2 separate regions of the Homo sapiens genome follow, and region 1 is linked to region 2. The links come from fine-mapping of genetic effects on gene expression. A gene starts in region 2. The other region holds a variant in brackets. All regions are shown on one strand. Distances are from middle to middle. Region 1 overlaps MYH9 (myosin heavy chain 9). Region 2 holds the start of MYH9 (myosin heavy chain 9).

Evidence for each region. PIP is the estimated chance that this variant, and not a neighbour inherited with it, causes the effect. A credible set is the group of variants that fine-mapping cannot tell apart.
Region 1: its variant is the best candidate, but not a certain one, in a credible set for the expression of MYH9 in whole blood (TOPMed, PIP 0.56).

The regions. Positions count from the first base shown.
Region 1 is chr22:36,277,023-36,282,392 of GRCh38, forward strand. MYH9 (myosin heavy chain 9) reads right to left here. Exons shown (of 41, transcript NM_002473.6): 41 at 4,258-5,370. Among named protein-coding and RNA genes, the nearest start is that of MIR6819, 7.2 kb to the right of the region's middle. The variant G/A (reference allele first, on the strand shown) is at 2,411.
Region 2 is chr22:36,384,988-36,390,357 of GRCh38, forward strand. It overlaps MYH9 (myosin heavy chain 9), which reads right to left and starts at 2,980. Exons shown (of 41, transcript NM_002473.6): 1 at 2,820-2,980. It overlaps MYH9-DT (MYH9 divergent transcript), which reads left to right and starts at 3,607. Exons shown (of 3, transcript NR_183573.1): 1 at 3,607-3,748. RefSeq lists enhancers at 139-852, 624-813, 853-1,566, 1,324-1,373, 2,997-3,291 and silencers at 2,004-2,233, 2,514-2,593, 2,624-3,203.

The DNA.
Region 1 (5,370 bases), 110 kb before region 2:
GCGTGGTGGCTCACGCCTGTAATCCCAGCACTTTGGGAGGCTAAGGCGGATGGATCACCTGAGGTCAGGAGTTCGAGACCAGCCTGCCCAACATGGAGAAACCCCATCTCTACTAAAAGTACAAAATTAGCCGGGCATGGTGGCACATGCCTGTATTTCCAGCTACTTGGGAGGCTGAGGCAGGAGAATTGCTGGAACCCGGGAGGCGGAAGTTGCAGTGAGCCGAGATCGCGCCACTGCACTCCAGCCTGGCTACAAAGCGAGACTCCGTCTTGGGGCAAAAAAAAAAAAAAAAAAAAAAAAAACACCACCTCTGCTTTCCTTTGTCTCCCTGAGTCGGCCTGTGGTCCCACCATGGGGTGTCCTGGCACATCATGTATTCCCAGATTTACAAATCCTTCTGCTCATTCCAGAATAAACTTGTTATCTTCAGAGACTCCCTTTCTGTTGTTATTTTAGGTTGACGACAGACTCCCTGAACGTAATCTCATAGTGGAGCAACCAGAATGGGGACTGCAGACTCAAATCCAGGTGAGAATCAGGTGTCTCTTAACTTCAGGGACGTGGGACGTGAGCAGAGACCATCCATTTGGAGATTCCGAGGATCTAGTGACTAAGAATAGGGCTCAGTTTCACCATCAACACCGCAGGAAAATTCACCCAGGATGTCTGCAGCTCCAGAGGAGGGGGCTTGGGCCAAAATCTTGGGTCCATATGCAATTTCGGCCACTGAGAAGGCAAACCCAACTCGAAGGGGGAAATGAACCCTGAAATTGCTTTGGAAGATGTGCGGTGACATCGCCAGCACCACCTAGTGGAAGCTGGAAGTGTGGACAGCCCTCCTCACAGCCACCACCCCCACCCCGCCCTGCCCCGCCAATGGAGAGGTGTGCTTGGCCAGGTCATGCCCGATGTCATTGTCTGTGTGCACCATGACAGGGACCCCAGCGCCCTGTTCTGCTCTTTTTCAAGGCACCCTGGAAGGAGGTGGCGAGCTTCAAGCTGGGCATTTGACAATGGGGGCTTCTGAAGGCATCAGTGGCTAGCGGAGACAAACAAGCCTAGGACTGCAAAGTGCAGGGGAAGGGAATTGTGTTTCATGCCCACAGCCCCTGGGGACCCCATAGGAGGCTGAGGGAGCAGCCACTGGTCCCGGCCACTCACAGCCCGGCCACTAGCAGTGTCTCATGGACAATCCTTTTTGTCTTTCCTCATATGGAAAAATTGGGCCCTGAGTAACAGGTGTCAGCTTCAGGAAGGTTCAGAAGTAGGTATAAAAATGACAAACACAATCAAGCTCATATTTTCCTGCTGAAGTCTAGACAAATGTGTGTTTCATTTTGATGCACATATAACATTTAAGAGAACTGGACTCATACACAGAGTTAACAGAGTAGTTTTTGGATTCAGATTTGAAATAGGTAATCGAGTAATTGATATAGATGCAGGATTTCAGCTTGAATGCCTCTCTGCTAGTAGGTACTGAGGGTGCTGCAAATAAGCTTTAGCCCAGGGAGAGGGAGAAGCATCTAGCTCAGTGGATCCCAAACAGGAGAAATGAGGAGTGGAGGGTAGGGAGGGTGCTGTGAGCACCCACAGCAACAGGATCTCTGGAACATGCACCAAGGGACATGCGCCAACCTCTATCCCCTTCCCTCCAGCAGCCAAGAGACAAAGGAGACTCTTGTCTGGAGTCATTGCGGTGCCAAAGCATGACCTTAAAAATGATAGCAACTTAGCTGGGCGTGGTGGCTCACGCCTGTAATCCCAGCTCTTTGGGAGGCCGAGGTGGGAGGATCACCTGAGGACCTGAGGTCAGGAGTTCGAGACCAGCCTGGCCAACATGGTGAAACCCTGTCTCTACTAAAAATACAGAAATTAGCCGGGTGTGGTGGCAGGCACCTGTAGTCCCAGCTACTTGGGAGGCTGAGGCAGGAGAATCATTTCAACCCGGGCGGCAGAGGTTGCAGTGAGCTGAGAGCGCACCACTGCACTCCAGCCTGGGTGACAGAGCGAGACTCTGTCTCTAAATAAATAAATAAATAAAATAATAGCACTTAGCTGCTGTGGAAAACTATATGACGGTTCTTTGAAAACTTAAACATAGAATTACCATAGGATCCCTCAATTCCACTTCTGGGAATATACCCAACAGCATGAAAACAGGGACCTGACCAGATATTTGTACAGTCATGCTCATAGCAGCATCGTTCACCATAGCCAAATGGTGGAGGCAACCCAGGTGTCCATTGACAGATGAACGGATAAGCAAAATGGTACGTGTACCCACAGGGAATATTATTCCGCCTTAAAAGAGGAAGGAAATTCTGACCCATGCTGTAACAAGGATGAACCTTAAGGACATTCTGCTAAGTGAAATAAGCCCGTCACAAAAGGACACATGCTGTAT[G/A]ATTCCGTTCATGTGAGGTTCTTACGGTGGTCAAATTTATAAAGATAAGGAGCAGAGTGTTGGTTGTCAAGGGCTGGGGGAGGGAGAATGAGCAGTTCATGTTTACTGGGTACAAAGTGTCAGTTTTGCAAGAGAAGAGTTCTGTGGATGATGGTGGTTGTGCAACAATGTGAATGTAATTCCACGAAACTGTTCACCTAAAAATGGTTAAAAAGGCAATTTTAGGTTATGAATATCTTACAGTTAAAATCTTTAATTAAAGTCCTTTCAAAGCCCAACCTTTGCAGAAAAAAAATTATAGCACCTGAGCCCTTTTTGGTTTGCAGAACATTTTCACACACATAGTCATACATGCTTCAACGACGGCCCTGTGATAAAAACATTTATTAATTTGGCTTCCCAGAGGAGAAAACTAAGGTTCAAATGGGGTGAAACGGCCAGGTGTGGTGGCTCATGCCTGTAATCCCAGCATTTTGGGAAGCCGAGGCAGGTGGATCTCCTGAGGTCAGGAGTTCGAGACCACCCTGGCCAACATGGCAAAACCCCATCTCAACTAAAAATACAAAAATTAGCCAGGTGTGGTAGTGCACGCCTGTAGTCTCAGCTACTCAGAAGGCTGAGGCACGAGAATCACTTGAACCTGGGAGGCACAGGTTGCAGTGAGTCAAGATCGCTCCACTGCTCTCCAGCCTGGGTGACAGGGACTCTGTCTCAGAAAAAAAAAAAAAAAAATCCAGGTGTGGTGGCTCACGCCTGTAATCCCAACACTTTGGAGGTCAGGAGTTTCAGATCAGCCTGACCAACATGGTGAAACCCTGTCTCTACTAAAAATACAAAAAAATTAGTCAGGCATGGTGGCGGGCACCTGTAATCCCAGCTACTCGGGAGGCTGAGACAGAAGAATAGCTTGAACCTGGGAGGCGGAGGTTGCAGTGAGCTGAGATTGAGCCACTGCATTCCGGCCTGGGTGACAGAGTGAGACTCCATCTCAGGGAAAAAAAAAAAAAAAAGATTCTGACAAAATGCCATGAAGATCGTTTGTAGATCTTGTCTTGCTAAAGTGGAGTTGGATTCAGAGGGTTGGGGGCGGGGTCTGAAATAGTTTCTAAGCAGTTCTCACGTGGAGCCAACGCTTCTGGTGCAAGGACCGCCATCCAGCAGCAAAGATCCAGTGTACTTTACTTAACAGACAAGGAAGCTAGCCGGGAAGGGAGTGACTTGCCCAGGGTGACAGGGCAGGGTGGCACATAGGAAGCTAAGGGCCAGGGAATGTGCATGCAGCTGTTTTGCCAAAAATCGGTCACCTTCTTAAGCTGACCCAGATAGTGTCCACTTTTTTAAATTTTTTTATTTATTTATTTTGAGACAGAGTCTCACTCTCGCCCAGGCTAGAGTGCAGTGGCACAATCTTAGCTCACTGCAACCTCTGCCTCCCGGGTTCAAGCGATTCTCCTGCCTCAGCCTCCTGAGTAGCTGGGATTACAGGCACACACCACCACGCCCGGCTAATTTTTTTTGTATTTTTAGTAGAGATGTTGGCCAGGCTGGTCTTGAACTCCTGACCTCAGGTGATCCCCCTGCCTCAGCCTCCCAAAGTGCTGGGATTACAGGCGTGAGCCACCGTGCTCGGCCTTGAACCAAGGTTTCTAAGATGCTCTTAGCCTCCTTGGATCTGGCCTAGCCCACCTTTCCATCTTAGCTTTTCTGCACAACCGCCCACAGCTAGCTCAGCCTACGCCTCAGCCAATCTGGTTCCCGACGATGCAGAGCCGGCATTGGCTGCAGAAGCCAGGCCTAGTCCTGTCCAGGGCCCCCTGGCCGCAGACAAATGCTACAGACACGGCTCGTAGCACATGGTTCTCTTTATTGTGATGCTCAGTGGAAAACATCTGTAAACCAGCTTACTGTAGTGGTGACAGCTGCAACACATGCTAAGGCACTTTTATTATATAAAAAAGGGGGTAGGGTGGGAGTTTCACTCACTCCTTTGTGACAGCAACTGGGACCTGAATTCAGAGCTTTGTAGGCATATGCAGCTTTTATATCACTTCATGATTTGAGAGTTTGTTTCCTTTAAAAAAAAAAAATGCCTTCTTGCCGTAAGTCTCAATGCAGCATATACAAAACAGTTAGGAATACAAGTAAATTCGGCAACCAGTGTAGACCAGTGAGGACGAGCTACTCTCTTCTAAACAAAGGCAGTGAGAAAGACTCGGAATTTTATCATTTATTACAAGAAAGGGGAAAAAAGAAAACCTTATTTTGCTTTCAAAAATACCTGTGCAGGTGGCAGATTTTTAAACTATACTGAGTCAACGGTGCAGGTAAACCACCCTCGGGCCCAGTCCTAGAGTAGACACAAGATCGCCTGGGAGGGCCGCTGGCCCCTCTAACGCTCTGGCTGTCAGACTTGGGACAAGTCCCTTAACCATTAAATATATTTGGTCCCCAAGAGTGTTGGGAGAAGCCACTGGAAGGCTGCTGGCCTTTCCAGCTTGACCCCGACAGCCTTGCTGTGGCAGAGGCAGGCTGTCCTCGGTAAAGGAGGGGAGGGGGCATTGCACTTGAGACATTTTAGAATCAGGAGGGAGACAGCGGACAGTGGCGCTGCCTGGGACAGGGTGGGGAGGAATCCACTCCTCCCCCCACCCCAGCCTTCTGTGCCCTGCACAGAGGTGGAGGCCCAGGGCCTGCTCCTTCTGGACCGCCCAGAGCCATGGGAGTGGGAGGCCCAAGGGGCAGAGGTGTGTGAGGTCACCACGTGTGATTGCAAACAGCAAAGAAAGGAGGAGGAGTGGGGGCGCTGGTGGCAGACGTCAGGGAGGCTGACGACTGCGGGGGCTCCGACTACCAAAAGGCCTCAGTCTGAAGAAAAATAGATTCATAGAAAACTCTGGCCCCTCCCCGGGGGCCTGCCCTGCTCGCCTCAACATCTTGTGCTTTTTGGCAAGAGAGGGCTG
Region 2 (5,370 bases):
CAGTGACTCTCTGGGGCTGCACAAAGGGAAATGCACTTCCTGCCCCAGCAGGCAGAGATGCTGTTTTATGCTCAGTAAATTAGGACGTTTGTTTAATTACGACGACACACAGATTTTGTTATTCTAAATATTTTTGGAACATGATGCTTGGGAGGAAGCTGTCAAGGCACGGGTTTTTTTTTTTCTCTCTCTCTCTTTTTCCTTTGCTTTGGGTTTCTCTTTCTCCCCCTCCAAGAGAAGGGTAGGGCCAGGCTCAGAGGAAAACAACAGCCAACCCCTCCTCTCCTTTTGAAATAAAGATGTCAAGCTGGTAAGGGCTGTCTTAAGTACTTTATTGAAGAATTAGCTAGAAGAGGAAGTAAAGGAAGAACAGCCAGCCTGGTTTCTAGCAATACCCTACCAGGCTACACAACAATGCTGCATTTTTTTAGTGTGTTTTTCTTCTTTTAAAGAGCTAACAGATCCTTGTTTTGTTTTTTCTGGAGCAAGAGCGGGCAAAAGGCAGGCTGTGATTAACATGCGTCCTTCATCCTACGAGAGAGAAGTTGTCCCATCTCCAACCCCTTAGGTTAAAAAGTTTAAAAATAAAAGCAAGAAAGCCAGGGCCCTCCCTCTCCTCTACCCTCCTGAACCTTTCAGATGAACAGCCTCACCGAATGCTGCCCTTCTCTCCGGGGCTGGGGAGCTCCCCAGAGCCTGCCAATGCCGGCTCTCCAGACACCTGGCTCTGCCCACCTGCGCTGCCAGGGTTTGCTGAGTGTGGAGACTGAAGTTCTTTGGTGTCACCCCACAGTCATCCAGAGCGCAGTGGCTCTCAAATTACACTGAGCAATCTCTCCATGTTTTTAATTACCCCCCAATTATCCACTAAGTGGCTCCTCACTTTCCAACACCGCATGCTTGCCTCAGTTTGCCAAACCTGCAATGTGCTTCTCCCTTGTAGCAGCCTCCTCCTTGCCCAAGAGAAGTGGCCCCTCTCAGCCTTGAAATTCCTGAGTCCTTTGTCTATGGCATACTTGGGACACACATCACAGGCTGCCTTTGTATTTCACTGGTTCTGCCACTTTCCCCTTGAGGACTGTAAACTCCCCAAGGGCAGAGGCAGGGCCCCGGGGATTTCACAGGGCAGTCTGGCTCCCTTCTCCCAATCCCCATGACTCACAGTACCTTTCCGGGGTCCCTGTCATCTCTACCTCACGTTAGACTCATCTACAGATTTGTCTCAGTTCTCCCCTAAGTGCCCATGGGCACGGGCCAGGTCTTACTCAACCTCCCACCCCCCCACCACCTGGCAGAGTCCCTGGCACAGAGAGGGCAGTTAAATATTTGCTCAATTACACATCTGTGTCCCCTTCCCCCACACATAGCAGCCTTGTATATAAACTGACTATTATTAATTGAGTGATTGTCTCAAAAGGCCTCCCTCCTTACCAAAAAGGGACTCCTAAGCCATCAGGTGAGCCAAACACTGGCCCAGACAGTGTAGTTAGAATGGCCACAGTGCTGCGCTGCACGGAGAAGGAGCTAAGGCTCTCTTCCCTTTCCACGGTTACTCATCAGTCACTTTGAAATCCTGTTAAACCCAGAAAAGGGCGCAGTGAACCGAGAAGTGGCTGGGCCTCTCAACTGCCCGGTGGAGACAGCCGCCTGCCTCTACGACCTGGGACTTCCCAAGGAGTCTTCTCTCCACACCGGCTGGGTGGGGCCGTGCGCTCACCCTGCCCCCCACCACAGGACAGCCGGCAAGCTAGTGCTGGGGGTGCTGAGTCTCAGTTTGAAACAGCGGGGCTTCCCTGGAGAATGAGGGTGCCGCAGTCCTGTCTCCTGTGCGTGGCCCCAGAACAGGATGGGGTGAGGACCCCAGCACAGGGAAGCGGGTGCGTGGAGTGGAGAATAGAAAACTCCGATTTGGCTCAAACAGGAAAGATGCAATCGCCCAGGCCTGCTCGTAACGGCAGAGCTAGCTGCCCCCGCACCCCGCCCAGACGGGATGGCCCCTGGGTGCGGTGGAATCAGGTGCACGCCTGGGCGGCCCCGACGGCTGCTGCATTCCGGGCCTCCCTCCCCCGAGGATCAGAAGTCGGAGGTCGAGGGCTGGAGCAGGGACTGGGGGTGGCCCTTCCTGTCTCGCGCCCGGGTCCCCGCCGGGTCCCCCTTGTCCGGGCAGCCGCCGCACCTCCCCCGGGCCCTCCCCGACCAGTCCGACGGCAGCGGGCGAATGAGGAAGTCGGCCGCGGAGGCGGAAACCGGGCCGGGTGCAAGGTCTGCAGCGGGACGGTCCGACTCTGACTCAGGAGGACGCCCTGACAGCTGCCAAACGGTGCCCGCTGCCCGTTACCTCCGTGCCTCAGACGCCAGAAACTTCCACGGGAGCGGCTGCCCCGGGCTCCCAACCCGTGAGGCTGCGTCCCAGGGGCCGCGGCTCCCGGAAGGGGTTAAAAAGTTTGCCCGAGTCGGGCCTGGGCGAGGCGAGGGCGGGGCGCGTGCCCCAGCGGCTGGGGGAGGTCGGCTCCAGTGCCCAGTCCTGAGACCGCGCCGGGGGACACGGGGGGCGCCGGGGAGCGCCGGGTCCCGAGGCCGCCCCTGCACCCCTAGGCCTCGCTGCTGCCGGCGCCCTCCCCGAGCGCCCGCGTGGGGGTCCCGGTCCCCCTGGGAAGGATGCGGTGCCGGGCCCTGAGCCGCCGGCGTTCGCCCCCGCCCGCGCGGGTGGCGGGCCGCACTGAGCCCAAGAACCACCAGTCGGCCTGGCGGCAGCGCGTCTCGCCCCCGCCCGCCCGCCGCCGCCTGCCCGGGGCGGGACCGCGGTGGGGCTCGCTCACCTGAACCTGGATCTGCCCCGGGAACAGGCGCTGCTTCTCCCGAGAGGACTTTCTCGAGCGCTCGGGCGGCGGCCGGGTGGGGCGAGCGCACGAGGCGGGAGCTGCAGCAGGTCAGCCTTGCTTAGCCTTCCGTGCCCTGCCCAGGAACCGCGGTGATCTGCGCGCCTCACCGCACCCAGCTCGGCTCCTCGCCGCCTTCCCGCCCCGCCCTCGGAGCCGCGGGACCATTCCCAGCCGGGAGCCGGCTCCGGGGCGGAGCCTGGGGCACAATCCCGCCCCCTTCCTGCTACACCCACTGCAGGCCGCGCCTGGCCTTGATGGGCAGACGTATTGGCCTGTGGAAAGGGGGTGGGCGGAGCCTCTGCGGCCAGATGGGTGGGGATTCAACATCCTCTTTCCGCCCCACCTCCACCCGCTCCACCTTCCCCCGCGCTTCCTAGGCGGGAGCCCCGCCCTCTAGGGCGGGTCCAACGGACAGCCAGGTTCTAGGACAAGGATTGACACAGGGGGAATCCAATCAGGAGGCGGCGACTCGGGGCGCGGAGAGCTCCGGGCCGGGGTTTTGGTGCCTTGCCTGGGCCGGGGCGAGGCCCTGCGGGAGCCGACTGGGAAGGTCTGGAACTCTGACACCCCGCCCCGCGAGCTGTGCTCTCAGTCTCATGTCATCCCACCACAAGGACAGATATTAAGTACCATATATGGGAAAAATGCTATTTTACATAATTATGATCCCTGTGGGGGCGGGCATGGACTCAGCCCTGGATTCCATTGTGAGCGTCTTGAGTTCGATTCCTGACCCTGCCTCTTTAGGATCCGCACGTTGCTGCCTTTCAGCCTCCAAACCTTCGCTCTGGCCGTTCTCTCCACCTGGAATACCCTTCCGAGCCTCTCTTCACCTCCATGTCATTAACTCGCATACATCCTTTCAGGTACTTGTTACAAATTGCACTTTTTTTTTGTTACTGTCCACTACAAGAGGATAAAAAATGTTTTCATTTTTAAATGAAAAATCTTTTGATCCATTTGGAATTTATTTTTGGGGTAAGGAAGAAACCTAAGATAATTTTTGTAATAGCCACTTGTCCAAACACTGTTTTCTCCACTGATTTTAGTTGGCACCTTCATCGCCTATAGAACTATTATACTTGAAGCTGTTTCTGACTTGTATACATTGATCTCTCTGTGTGCACCTGTGCCAATCCCACCATGCTTTAATGAAGATACCTTTATAATACATTCTATATCTATGAGGGCAAATTTCTCATCATTACTCTTTCTTACTGGAATGTGCTTGCTATCATGACTATTCTTCCAAATTAACTTCAGAAAAAAGCTATGTTCTAAAGGCAAAAGAAAGCTGGGAAAAAAAGATTTTGCAACTCTGTGACAAATTACTATCAGCAATATATAAAGATCTCTTCCCAGTTGATAAGAAAAACCTCGGCCGGGCGCGTGGCTCATGCCTGTAATCCCAACATTTTGGGAGGCCGAGGCGGGCGGATCACCTGAGGTTGGGAGTTCAAGGGCAGCCTGACCAACGTGGAGAAACCCCGTCTCTACTAAAAATACAAAATAATTAGCCGGGCATGGTGGCCCATGCTTGTAATCCCAGTTACTCAGGAGGCTGAGGCAGGAGAATCGCTTGAACCCGGGAGGCGGAGGTTGCAGTGAGCAGAGATCGTACCACTGCACTCTAGCCTGGGCAACAAGAGCATAACTCCGCCTCAAAAAAAAAAAAAACAAAGAAAAAGAAAAAGAAAAACCTCAAAGACTCCAAAATAAAAATGGCCAAAAACAGGAACAGGTGATTTTAAAGAAGAATTATAAATGGCCAATAATTATTTTTAAAAAGCCATAAGAAATGCAAACAAAACAACATAAAATGCCATTTTCACCTAATTAAAAAAAAAATGCTCAATATTGGTCAGGTTTATAGATACAGATGAGAAAGTAAATTGATCAATTCTATCTGAGAATTCATCTTAAAAGACATTAGAAAAGTACACAGATATGAACTTTAAAGTTCTTTGCAGCCGGGCGCGGTGGCTCACGCCTGTAATCCCAGCACTTTGGGAGGCCGAGGCGGGCGGATCACGAGGTCAGGAGATCGAGACCATCCCGGCTAAAACGGTGAAACCCCGTCTCTACTAAAACTACAAAAAATAGCCGGGCGTAGTGGCGGGCGCCTGTAGTCCCAGCTACTTGGGAGGCTGAGGCAGGAGAATGGCGTGAACCCGAGAGGCGGAGCTTACAGTGAGCCGAGATCCCGCCACTGCACTCCAGCCTGGGCGACAGAGCGAGACTCCGTCTCAAAAAAAAAAAAAAAAAAAAAAAAAAAAAAGTTCTTTGCAACATTGTTTATAGTCACTAAATGTTAGAAATAAATGTACAATATATTACAAGATTGAATACATTGTGATATAGTCATATGTCGAAAAGTACAAAAAAAGTCATTAAAATTTTTATGTAGATTTGTATTTGCTGATTGAAAATATACTAAGTGGCCAGACGCAGTGGCTCATGCCTGTAGTCCCAGCACTTTGGGAGGTAA